Homo sapiens: one gene and its partners. The protein of the gene in region 1 interacts with the protein of each later gene in a biochemical or structural test. Each region holds a gene or a part of one and is shown in the gene's direction. Other genes may lie near its edges.

The links.
Region 2: the proteins of EHMT2 (region 1) and CDYL form a complex in vitro, tested with the Homo sapiens proteins (one study listed by BioGRID).
Region 3: the proteins of EHMT2 (region 1) and ACSM3 are reported together in a solved structure, tested with the Homo sapiens proteins (one study listed by BioGRID).

The regions. Positions count from the first base shown.
Region 1 is NC_000006.12:31,884,108-31,887,759, reverse strand, and holds part of EHMT2 (histone-lysine N-methyltransferase EHMT2), read left to right. Parts: intron 1-100; coding exon 101-183; intron 184-658; coding exon 659-765; intron 766-862; coding exon 863-985; intron 986-1,077; coding exon 1,078-1,179; intron 1,180-2,704; coding exon of another isoform or gene 2,705-2,743; coding exon 2,744-2,848; coding exon of another isoform or gene 2,849-2,869; intron 2,870-2,960; coding exon 2,961-3,115; intron 3,116-3,200; coding exon 3,201-3,368; intron 3,369-3,555; exon of another isoform or gene 3,556-3,652. UniProt on the Homo sapiens protein: Histone methyltransferase that specifically mono- and dimethylates 'Lys-9' of histone H3 (H3K9me1 and H3K9me2, respectively) in euchromatin.
Region 2 is NC_000006.12:4,782,904-4,786,555, forward strand, and holds part of CDYL (chromodomain Y-like protein), read left to right. Parts: intron 1-3,652.
Region 3 is NC_000016.10:20,770,368-20,774,019, forward strand, and holds part of ACSM3 (acyl-coenzyme A synthetase ACSM3, mitochondrial), read left to right. Parts: intron 1-3,652. UniProt on the Homo sapiens protein: Catalyzes the activation of fatty acids by CoA to produce an acyl-CoA, the first step in fatty acid metabolism. Capable of activating medium-chain fatty acids with a preference for isobutyrate among fatty acids with 2-6 carbon atoms.

The DNA.
Region 1 (3,652 bases):
GGCACAGCAACTGGGGCTGAGGCCAGAGGAGTGGTGTCGAGGCTGATGCTGGAATCTGAGGAGCTCCCCTTCTCTCCCCGCTCCCGTGCTCCCTTGGCAGGCGGAAGAAGCTCCGTTTCCACCCTCGGCAGTTGTACCTGTCCGTGAAGCAGGGCGAGCTGCAGAAGGTGATCCTGATGCTGTGTGAGTGCCACCCATTCCTTCAGCAGACCTTGACCAAGCTTCATGTATATACCAGGCACTGGGTACAGGGCCAGGAGTACAGTCGTGAAGGACACAGTCCTTGCCCTGAAGGACTTAGTGTGGTGGGGAAAAGACACATGTAACCCATAACGATGGGGATGTGGTGACTCATAGGTGCTGGGTCCTGTTCTGAGTGCTTATACCTGTTAGCCTTGGCTTGCACAGAGAGGTTAGGGACCTTGCACAGTGCACAGTGGTACTGAGAAGCAAGGCAGGGTTTGAATTCAGGCAGAGCTGATGCCTTTGACTCCTTATTCTGATAAATGCTGTGGTGGAGGCAAGCTCGGAGAATGCCAGGAGGGGCCCTGATCCAGCTTGGGGCCCTGAGAAGCCTTCCTGAAAGAAGTGCCACCTGCCCCCTAGCTTGCTTACCACTTGTCCCTCCCTCTCCCGGTGTGGCGGGCTCTCCCCGCAGTGGACAACCTGGACCCCAACTTCCAGAGCGACCAGCAGAGCAAGCGCACGCCCCTGCATGCAGCCGCCCAGAAGGGCTCCGTGGAGATCTGCCATGTGCTGCTGCAGGTCAGCACGGGCCCGGCCCCATGCCTCATTCACCAGGCCCTTAGGCCCCTCCCCTGCCCCATGCCTCCCTGGTGCCAGCCCTCCTGCCCCCTCACAGGCTGGAGCCAACATAAATGCAGTGGACAAACAGCAGCGGACGCCACTGATGGAGGCCGTGGTGAACAACCACCTGGAGGTAGCCCGTTACATGGTGCAGCGTGGTGGCTGTGTCTATAGCAAGGTGTGCGCGCAGGCAGCAGGGCGTGGCCCCCGGAGTCAGGGACCAGGTTTGGGGTGCCAGCCCAAAGGCTCATTTGCCCGTGTCTCCCTCAGGAGGAGGACGGTTCCACCTGCCTCCACCACGCAGCCAAAATCGGGAACTTGGAGATGGTCAGCCTGCTGCTGAGCACAGGACAGGTGGACGTCAACGCCCAGGTCAGCGGCCCACCCAGCCCAGCCCCTCTGGGTCCCTGGTGCCTGGGTTCCTTGGCTTGGCCTCAGGCTTTGGGCCGCCTTTCCTACATCTGACCTCACACTGCTCGTGTCTGTCCTCATTGCTTTCTTCTTCCTCATTTGTATTTCTCTTCATTCTTTTCTTTCTCGTTTCTTTCTCTTTATCAAGTTTCAGAATAATCAGTTCCTGTCTTAATCTCTGAAAGTGTCCAGTGAGGCTTTTTATTAACTCTTGGGTTGTCATACATTGGATGTGTTTTAGTCATTTATTGGCATTCTTCTCAGTCTTTGAATTATTCCATCATTGTCCAGAAGAAGCCCCTTTAAGAGGCCTCTGTGGCTGTGACATGACCCAGTGGCCCAGTGGCCTTTGAGAGCCTCCTGACCTTTCAGCACATTTCCTGCCCCCAACTCAGAATCCACCATTTCTCTAAGAAACTCTGCTTCCTTTATGGGAAACTTTTTTTTTTTTTTTTGAGACGGAGTCTCACTCTGTTGCCCAGGCTGGAGTGCAATGGCGTGATCACAGCTTACTGCAAGCTCCGCCTCCCAGGTTCACGCCATTCTCCTGCCTCAGCCTCCCGAGTAGCTGGGATTACAGGCGCCCACCACCATGCCCGGCTAATTTTTGTATTTTTAGTAGAGACGGGGTTTCACCATATTGGCCAGGCTGATCTTGAACTCCTGACCTCGTGAGCCACAGCGCCCGGCCAGAAGCATTTTTTAGAGAATACAATCTATGTTCCTAGGAGTGTTTATTGTTATTGGGTTGTCGCTGCTTCTAGGACTTTTGAGTGGGCAGACTTAGGAAATTTTTGTTCGTTTTTTCTTTTAAGAGACAGGGTCTTGCTATGTCACCCAGGCTGAAGTACAGTAGCAGTTCACAGACAGTCATAGCTCTCTGCAGCCTCGAAATCCTGGGCTCAAGCAACCCTCCCATCTCAGTCACATGAGTAGCTGGGACTACAGGCATGCACCTCCATGACCAGCTCCTGGCTGTATTTTTTGGAAAGAGAACAATTACTTTATTTTCTCTCTGGCATCAGATGGTAGACGCTACTAGTCCCATTTTTGTTTGTTTGTTTTTTGAGACGGAGTCTTGCTCTGTCGCCCAGGCTGGAGTGCAGTGGCACGATCTTGGCTCACTGCAAGCTCCGCCTCCCGGGTTCACGCCATTCTGCCTCAGCCTCCCTAGTAGCTGGGACTACAGGCGCCTGCCACCACGCCCAGCTAATTTTTTCTATTTTTTAGTAGAGACAGGGTTTCACCGTGTTGGCCACAATGGCCTCCATCTCCTGACCTCGTGATCCGCCCGCCTCGGCCTCCCAAAGTGCTGGGATTACAGGCATGAGCCACCGCGCCCGACCCTACTAGTCCCATTTTTTAGATGAAGAAACTGCGACCCAGAGACGTTAAGTGACTTACCCAGGGTCCCACAGCTTGTGAATGGTGGAGCTGGGATTCACACACACAGCCAATCTTGACCATTTGCTGCTTTGGTGAGCAGGGCCAGCTGCCCCCACCCTCACTCCCTTCCCACCCACAGGACAGTGGGGGGTGGACGCCCATCATCTGGGCTGCAGAGCACAAGCACATCGAGGTGATCCGCATGCTACTGACGCGGGGCGCCGACGTCACCCTCACTGACAACGTGAGTGAGCGTTTGGTTGAGGTAGGGCAGCCCCAGGCCCCTGAGCAAGGTGGAGGCTGGATTCAAGGGCCCAGCTGCCTGCACCTCATCTGTTCCCCTCCTACCTCCACAGGAGGAGAACATCTGCCTGCACTGGGCCTCCTTCACGGGCAGCGCCGCCATCGCCGAAGTCCTTCTGAATGCGCGCTGTGACCTCCATGCTGTCAACTACCATGGGGACACCCCCCTGCACATCGCAGCTCGGGAGAGCTACCATGACTGCGTGCTGTGAGCCCCTGCCCCGCCCTTGATGCCCCTGCCCCCACTTCTTGCAGCCTCAGACCCTGCATTGGGCATCCTGTCCCCTCTTCAGGTTATTCCTGTCACGTGGGGCCAACCCTGAGCTGCGGAACAAAGAGGGGGACACAGCATGGGACCTGACTCCCGAGCGCTCCGACGTGTGGTTTGCGCTTCAACTCAACCGCAAGCTCCGACTTGGGGTGGGAAATCGGGCCATCCGCACAGAGAAGATCATCTGCCGGTGAGCCCTGGGCCCCTCTCTGCACCCAAGACCACCTCCTCCCCACCCATACCCTCCCCAGGCTCCATTGCATCCTCACAACATTCCCCAACCCCTCCCCATGCACCACTGAATCCCCAGAACCACCCACAGGCCCCCTCCCCACTAGGGTTGCCAGATACAGCAAATAAAAATAGAAGACACCCAGTTAAACTGGAATTTCAGATGCACAGATGCATACTTTTTTAGTGTGAGAATGTCCTGTGTAATTTTTGGGACATACTAAAAAGCTATTTCTTGTTTAT
Region 2 (3,652 bases), about 27 Mb from region 1:
TTCTAGTCTTTAAGTGGCTAATTTTGCAGCTATGCATACATGATGTCTAAAGATAGTCAGTATTTAATGGCACTTCTGACAATGTAAAGATTTTACATTCCTTGAACCCTGGTGCATTCCTGAACTCACATGCTACTGCTTTCTTATTGCCCATGAAAAAATCCCTCATCAAATAGAACATTATTATTTTATACAACCTTTCTTTAGATTCACCTCTGACTTCATAGTTTCTTCAATCAGATCGTCCATCTTCTATCTCAGAACTTCCTTCTGGGATTTTTTTTTTTCTTAAGTGTATCCTTTAGAGATTTCTTTAGTGAGGGACTATGGATGGAAAAGTTTCTAGGTTTTTTTTTTTTAATTATTATTATCTGGACATGTCTTTATTTTGCCATCATTTTTTGAAAGAGAATAGTATTTCAAATAAAACCAGTTAATTGGTTAATTTCTTTCAGCTCCTTCTGAAGATGGTGCTCCATTGTCTTCTGCCTTGCCTTTGCACTATTCTTGAGACTTTTTTTTTTTTTTTTGAGGTGGCGTTTCACTCTTGTCGCCCAGGCTGGAGTGCAGTGGCATGATCTTGGCTTACTGTAGCCTCTGCCTCACTGGTTCAAGTGATTCTCCTGCCTCAGCCTTTCAAGTAGCTGGGATTATGGGCATGCACCACCATGCCTGGCTATTTTTTGTATTTTTAGTAGAGATGGGGTTTCACCATGTTGGTCAGGCTAGTCTCGAACTCCTGACATCAAGTGATCCACCCGCCTCAGCCTCCCAGAGTGCTTGGATTACAGGTGTGAGCCACACTGCACCTGGCCAAGACTGTTGTCAGCATAGGTGCAGTCACTTTATAGGAGATCTGTCTTCTGTCTCTGGTTGTTCTTGAGATCATCTCTTTGACTTTGGTTTCCTCTTGTTTAATACGACAATGTATTTTGTGTGATTTTTTATTAGTTAGGTGGGTATATGTTGTGCTGCTTTTTGGATTTGTGCCTCATCAGCTCGAAAATGGATTTGGCCAGTTTGTCTTCAAATACTCCTTCTCTGTACTCGTCAGGAATTCCAAGTAGACATCTATCAGATCATTTCATTCTCTCTTCTTTGTCTTTTACCTTTTCATTTCCATCTCCTTGTTTGTGTTTTGTTTTCTTTTTATGTGCTGCATTTTAGCTATTTCCTTGGATCTAAACTATAGTTCACTAATGAGCTGTGTTTAATCTGCTGTTTTATTCAACCATTGAGTTTTAATTTTCAATAATTACATTTTTTACTTCGAAATATTCTGGGGAGTTTTTACCTAATCTGCAATTCGTTTTTTAAGTCTTTGGTGTTTGTCCATTTTATGATTTAGTCATTATTTTGGGTTGGGGGCAGTTACTGAGGCAGCTGGGATATTTTCCTTGTTTCCTACAATTGCTATATGGTATCACTGTTAATGAGAGTTATATTTTATTAAAGATCTAGTTAATTTGTAATGAGAGGGCCCTTTGGAGTCATGTTTGCTTTATTGCCAGAATCTGAAGAAACCTTCTTGATTTGGAATTTGTGACATGAGCAGGGATTGAGGCTTTGAACCAACACTTGAGATTTACCTGATGATATTGAAAATGCAAAACAGTAGTTTTCAAGAGGACTGTTTATGAAAATGGATTATAATAGTTATAACGCAATTGCTTCTGAAGCAAAATGTTCAATGTCTTTGTTCGGCATGCCTTGATATATAGTCTTGTACCACATAATGATACTTTGGTCTTACGATGGTGGTCCCGTAAGATTATAATACCACATTTTTACTGTACCTTTTCTATGTTTAGATACACAAGTTGATATGGTTTGGCTGTGTCCTCACCCAGATCTCATTTGGAATTGTAGCTCCCATAATTCCCACGTACCATGGGAGGGACCCTGTGGGAGGTAGTTGAATCGTGGGGTGGATCTTTCCCTTGCTGTTCTCCTGATAGTGAGTCTCATGAGATCTCATGGTTTGATAAAAAGGAGTTCCCCTGCACAAGCTCTCTTGCCTGCCACCATGTAACGTGTGACCTTGCTCCTCATTCACCTTCCTCCATGATTGTGAGGCCCCCCCAGCCATGTGGAACTGAGTTAATTAAACTCGTTTCCTTTATAAATTACCCGGTCTCGGGTATGTCTTTATTAGCAATGTGAGAATGGACTAATACACAAGTCCTCACTATTGTGTTAAAATTGCCTACAGTGTTCAGTACAGTAACATCTGTACAGGTCTGTAGCCTGGAAGCAATAGGCTCTACCATACAGCCTAGGTGTGTAGTAGGCTACAACATTGATGTTTGTGTAAGTTCACTCTGTGAGGTTCGCACAGCAGTGAAATTGCCTAACAACGCATTTCTGAGAACATATCACTGTAGTTAAGCAACGTGTGACCGTATAGTATACTTTCTTTTTTGTGGAGAGGTTAGCTTCAATATATCTAGAGAATGTCTTTTATTTACTTTTTGTCTTATTTCCATTTGTAGTAGGCTCTCTGCTATGTGAAGTTTTCTTTGTTGGTAGCTTCCTAGTGTTTGTTGTTAAAACCCAACAATGTTGACTGCACATCATGAATGTTCTTTGGTTAAAATGTATCCGTTTTTCACTTGTACCCATTTTTCATTAGTAGTTTACTGTTTAGGAATTCAAGGCATCACATAGTTGCACACAGAAGCTTTTCTTATTTTATTAATAGCATGTAACTAATGTGGATATCCCAGCTCTTTAGTGTATCTCAGAACCAGGACAAAAAAAGTCATCTTAGTTTGCAAAAAGATGCACCACCCCATGCACACTGGACAACAGCTCTGGGTCTCTCTTGGAGACTGTTGACATTTCCTTTAGGCATTATGTACTTGGACTTGACTGGCACCTTTAGCATGTTAGAAACAGGTTATTTGGTAAAGGAAAAGGCTCTGCCAGAGGCAGGTGAATTGACGTTAATAAGTTTGTTCATGAAGTTCGCTGAAGAGGGTAGCTGGTGATGGCACTCCAAGTCTTGAGGTGACAGGCTCCGTGGGGCCAGTCCTGCGCCCCTTAGAGCAAGTGAAGGGCATGCTTATGAAAGAAAAGGCATATGTTGCAAAGAGCTATCAAGAAGAGTTTTTAAAAAGTGTTGCTATGTAAGTGTAAGCGAAAAAATTAAGTCTACTTTTATGGTAAACTTAAACATAAATTTTATGGTCATTTCCACCCAAGTTCTCCAGACGGCAGAGGAGTCAGCAGGAATTCTCCTAAGGAGGTGGAGGTGGGAGGGAGGAGGAAATGGCCTTTGCAAGCCTGACCTGTTGTTTGAAATCTCAAGTTACCTTACATGTTTTATGATATTAACCATGTAGTCCATACAATTTTTGGGATTCAATATGAAATATTTTAAACATATTTACCAAGGAGCTCTTCTCCAGAGATCCTTGATTTAGGCTGATGTTTCAGGAAGCTGAGCTGTGGATTAGTGGCCCTGTGTGCCCTTGGTCTCTTGCTGTGTGTGTGTACTCTGGCTTCAGAAGCAGAGACGGACTGTGTTACCTTCCATAATGATGCCGGGTAAAGGAGGCATTAGCTGATCTGGTGAAATGTAAATAAGATTTGAATTAAGTAGTTCAAAAAAAATTTAAAAAGTTTGTTTTAGTAATTGTTTTTAACCAAT
Region 3 (3,652 bases), on another chromosome or scaffold:
TTGCTACTGGCATCTAACAGGTAAAAGCCAGGGATTCTGCTAAATATCCCATAATGCACAGGGCAGCCTCCAGAACAAAGAATTATTTGACCCGAAATGTCAATAGTTCCATGGTTAGTTGAGAGACCCTGTATTACATAAATGTAGAATTCTAGGTTGACTTAAAAAAAAAAAAGGAGAAGAGTGAAAAGTAATTCCAAGAGTCAGAAATGGTAGAAAAGGAGGCACAGATAAATCTTTGGGGAAAATGTAAAGGATGCAAGAATTCTCACTTATTGGAAAGAAAAATGATCAGGCTAAATGGGAAATGATTTGGGCCAAAAGAAATGACATGGCTTCCAACGTCTAGAAATAAGGACCCCAAAGTTATTATTTTTCCTGTTATGTTTAGTTATGTAATAACTATACATAGTTATGGGGTACAAAGATATTTTTGATACATGTATAAAATGTGTAGTGATCAAATGAGGGTAATTAGGCTACCCATCATCCCAAACATGCATCATTTCTTTGTGCTGGGAGCATTCAAAATCCTCTCTCCTAGCTTTTTGAACATACTCAATATATTATTCTTAACTGTTTTCACTCTACAGTGCTATAGAACACTAGAACTTATTCCATCCATCTAGCTATAATTTTGCATCCATTAACCAACCTCTTTCTATGCTCCTCTCCCCACTACCGTTCCTAGCCTCTAATAGCCACAATTCCACTCCCTACTTCTATGAGCTCTTTTCAGGCTGGAGTGCGGTGGTGTGATCTCAGCCCACTGCAACCTCCGCCTCATGAGTTCAAGCAATTCTTGTGCCTCAGCCTCCCGAGTAGCCGGGACTACAGGCACCTGCCACCATGCCGGCTAATTTTTGTATTTTTAGTAGAGACAGGGTTTTGCCATGTTGGCCAGGCTGACCTTGAACTCCTGGTCTCAAGTGATCCGCCCACCTTGGCCTCCCAAAGCACTGGGATTACAGGCGTGAGCCACCCACCACGCCAGGCCGAGCTCCTTTTTTTTTTTTTTTTTTTTTTTTTTAAGAGACAGGGTCTTACTTTGTTGCCCAGGCTGAAGTTCAGTGAAGCTCATTTTTTTAAGCTCCCACATATGAGTAAGAACATGTGGCATTTATCTTTCCGTGTCTGACTTATTTCACTTAACATAATGTCCTCCAAGTTCATACATGTTGCCACAAATAACAGAATTTCATTCTTTTTTATGGCTGAATAGTATTGCACTGTGTATATATACCACATTTTCTTTATCCATTCATCTCTTGATAGACATTTAGGTTGATTCCATATCTTGGCTATTATGTACAGTGCTGCAATAAACATGGCAGTGCAGATATCTCTTCAATAGACTGATTTCCTTTCCTTTGAAAAAATACCCAGTGGTGAGACTGCTAAATCATATGGTAGTTTTATTTTTAGTTTTTTGAGAGGCCCTTATATTGTTTTCTGCAATGGCTGTACTAATTTATATTCTCACCAATAGTGTTTCAGAGTTCCCTTTTCTCCACATCCTCTCAAGCATTTGTTATCTTTTGTCTTTTTGACAATAGCCATTCTAACTGGGGTAAGATCATATCTCATCATGGTTTTGATTTGAATTATCCTGATGATTAATGATGTTGAGCATTTTTTCATATACTTGCTGCCAATTAGTATGTCTTTTGAGAAATGTCTATTCAGATTCTATGTCCATTTTTTAATTGAATTATTTGTTTTGTTTTGTTTTGTTTTGCTGTTGGGTTATTTGCATTCCCTGTATATTCTGGATATTAATTCCTTGTCAGGTGAATAGTTCACAAATATTTTCTCCCATTCTACATCTTGTCTCTTCTCTCTGTTGATTGCTTCCTTTACTGTCCAGAAGCTTTTTAGCTTTGTATAGTCCCATTTGTCTGTTTTTGGTTTTGTTGCCTGTGTTTTCATATCCTTATCCCTAAAATATTTGCCTAGGGGAGTCTCAGAGCCTACTCTGGCTCAGGATCTGCCCAATTTTATTAAATTTATTATAAAATTTAAAAAATTTTAAAAATTAAAATTAAAATAAAAAATAAAACATTTGCCTTGATCAATGACTTGAAGCATTTACACTATATTTTCTTCGGTTGTTTTATAGTTTTGAGTCTTACATTTAAGTCTATAATCCAGTTCGAGTTGATTTTTGTATATGGTGAGAGAGAGGGCTCTAGTCTTAGTCTACCACATATGATTACCACTTTTCCTCGGACCATGTACTGAAGAGGATATCCTTTCCTCAGTGTATGTTCTTGGCACCTTTGTTGAAAATCTGTTGAATGTAAATGTGTGGGTTTAGTTCTGGGTTATCTATTCTGTTTCATTGGTCTATGCATCTGTTTTTATGCCAATACCATGCTGTTTTGGTTACTATAGCTCTGTAGTATGATTTGAAGTTAGGAAGTGTGGTGTCTCTACTAAAAATACAAAAATTAGCCGGGCATGGTGGTGCATGCCTGTAATCCCAGCTACTAGGGAGGCTAAGGGAGGAGAATCACTTTAATCTGGGAGGTGGAGGTTGCAGTGAACTGAGATCACACCATTGCACTCCAGCCTAGGTGACAAGAGTGAGACTCCCTCTCAAAAAAAAAAAAAAAAGATTTAGTGTTAGTTCTTATGGTAGAATTCAGCAGTAAAACCATCCAATTCTGGGCTTTTTTTATTACTGATTCAATCTCATTACATATTATTGGTCTATTCAGGTTTTCTATCTTGGTAGGTTATGTGTGTCCAGGAATTTATCCATTTCCTCTATGTTTTCCAATTTGTTGGCATATAGTTGTTCATAAGAGTCTTTAATGATCTTTTGTATTTCTGTGGTACAGTTGTAATGTCTCCTTTTTCATTTCTGATTTTATTTATTTGGGTCTTCTCTTTTTTTCTTAATCTAGCTAAAGATTTGTCTATTTTGTTTTTCCTCAAAAAATTTTGTTTTGTTGATCTTTTATAATTTTGCCTCAATTTCATTTATTTCTGCTCTGATCTTTATTATTTCTTTCTTTCTACTAATTTTGGATTTAGTTTGTTCTTGCTTTTCTGGTTCCTTGAGGTGCATTCTTAGATTGTTTATTTGAAATCTTTCTGCTTGTTTGATATAGGTGTTTATGGCTATAAACTTCCCTTCTTAACACTGTGTTTGCTTTATTTCATTGATTTTGATATATTATGCTTCCATTTTCATTATTTTCAAGACATTTTTTGCTTTCCTTCTCAATTTCATCATTGACTCACTGGTCATTCAGGAGCATGTTGTTTAATTTCCATGTATTTGTACAGTTTTCCAAAGTTCCTCTTGTTACTGATTTCTAGTTTTATTCCATTGTGGTCTAAGAACATACCTGGTATGATTTCAATTTTTAAGAATTTGTTGAAATTTGTTTTGTGCCCTAACATATGGTCTATTCTGGAGAATGTGCCATGTGCTGATGAGAAGAAGAATGTGTATTCTGTAGCTGTTGGATAAAATGTTGTGTAAATATCTGCGAGGTCCATTTGGTCCAAAGTGCAGTATAAATCCAATGTTTCTTTGTTAATTTTCTGTCTAGATGATCCGTCTAATGCTGAGGGTAGAGTGTTAAAGTCCTGAACATTGTTGTATTGGAGTCTATCTGTTTACATCTAATGATATTTGCTT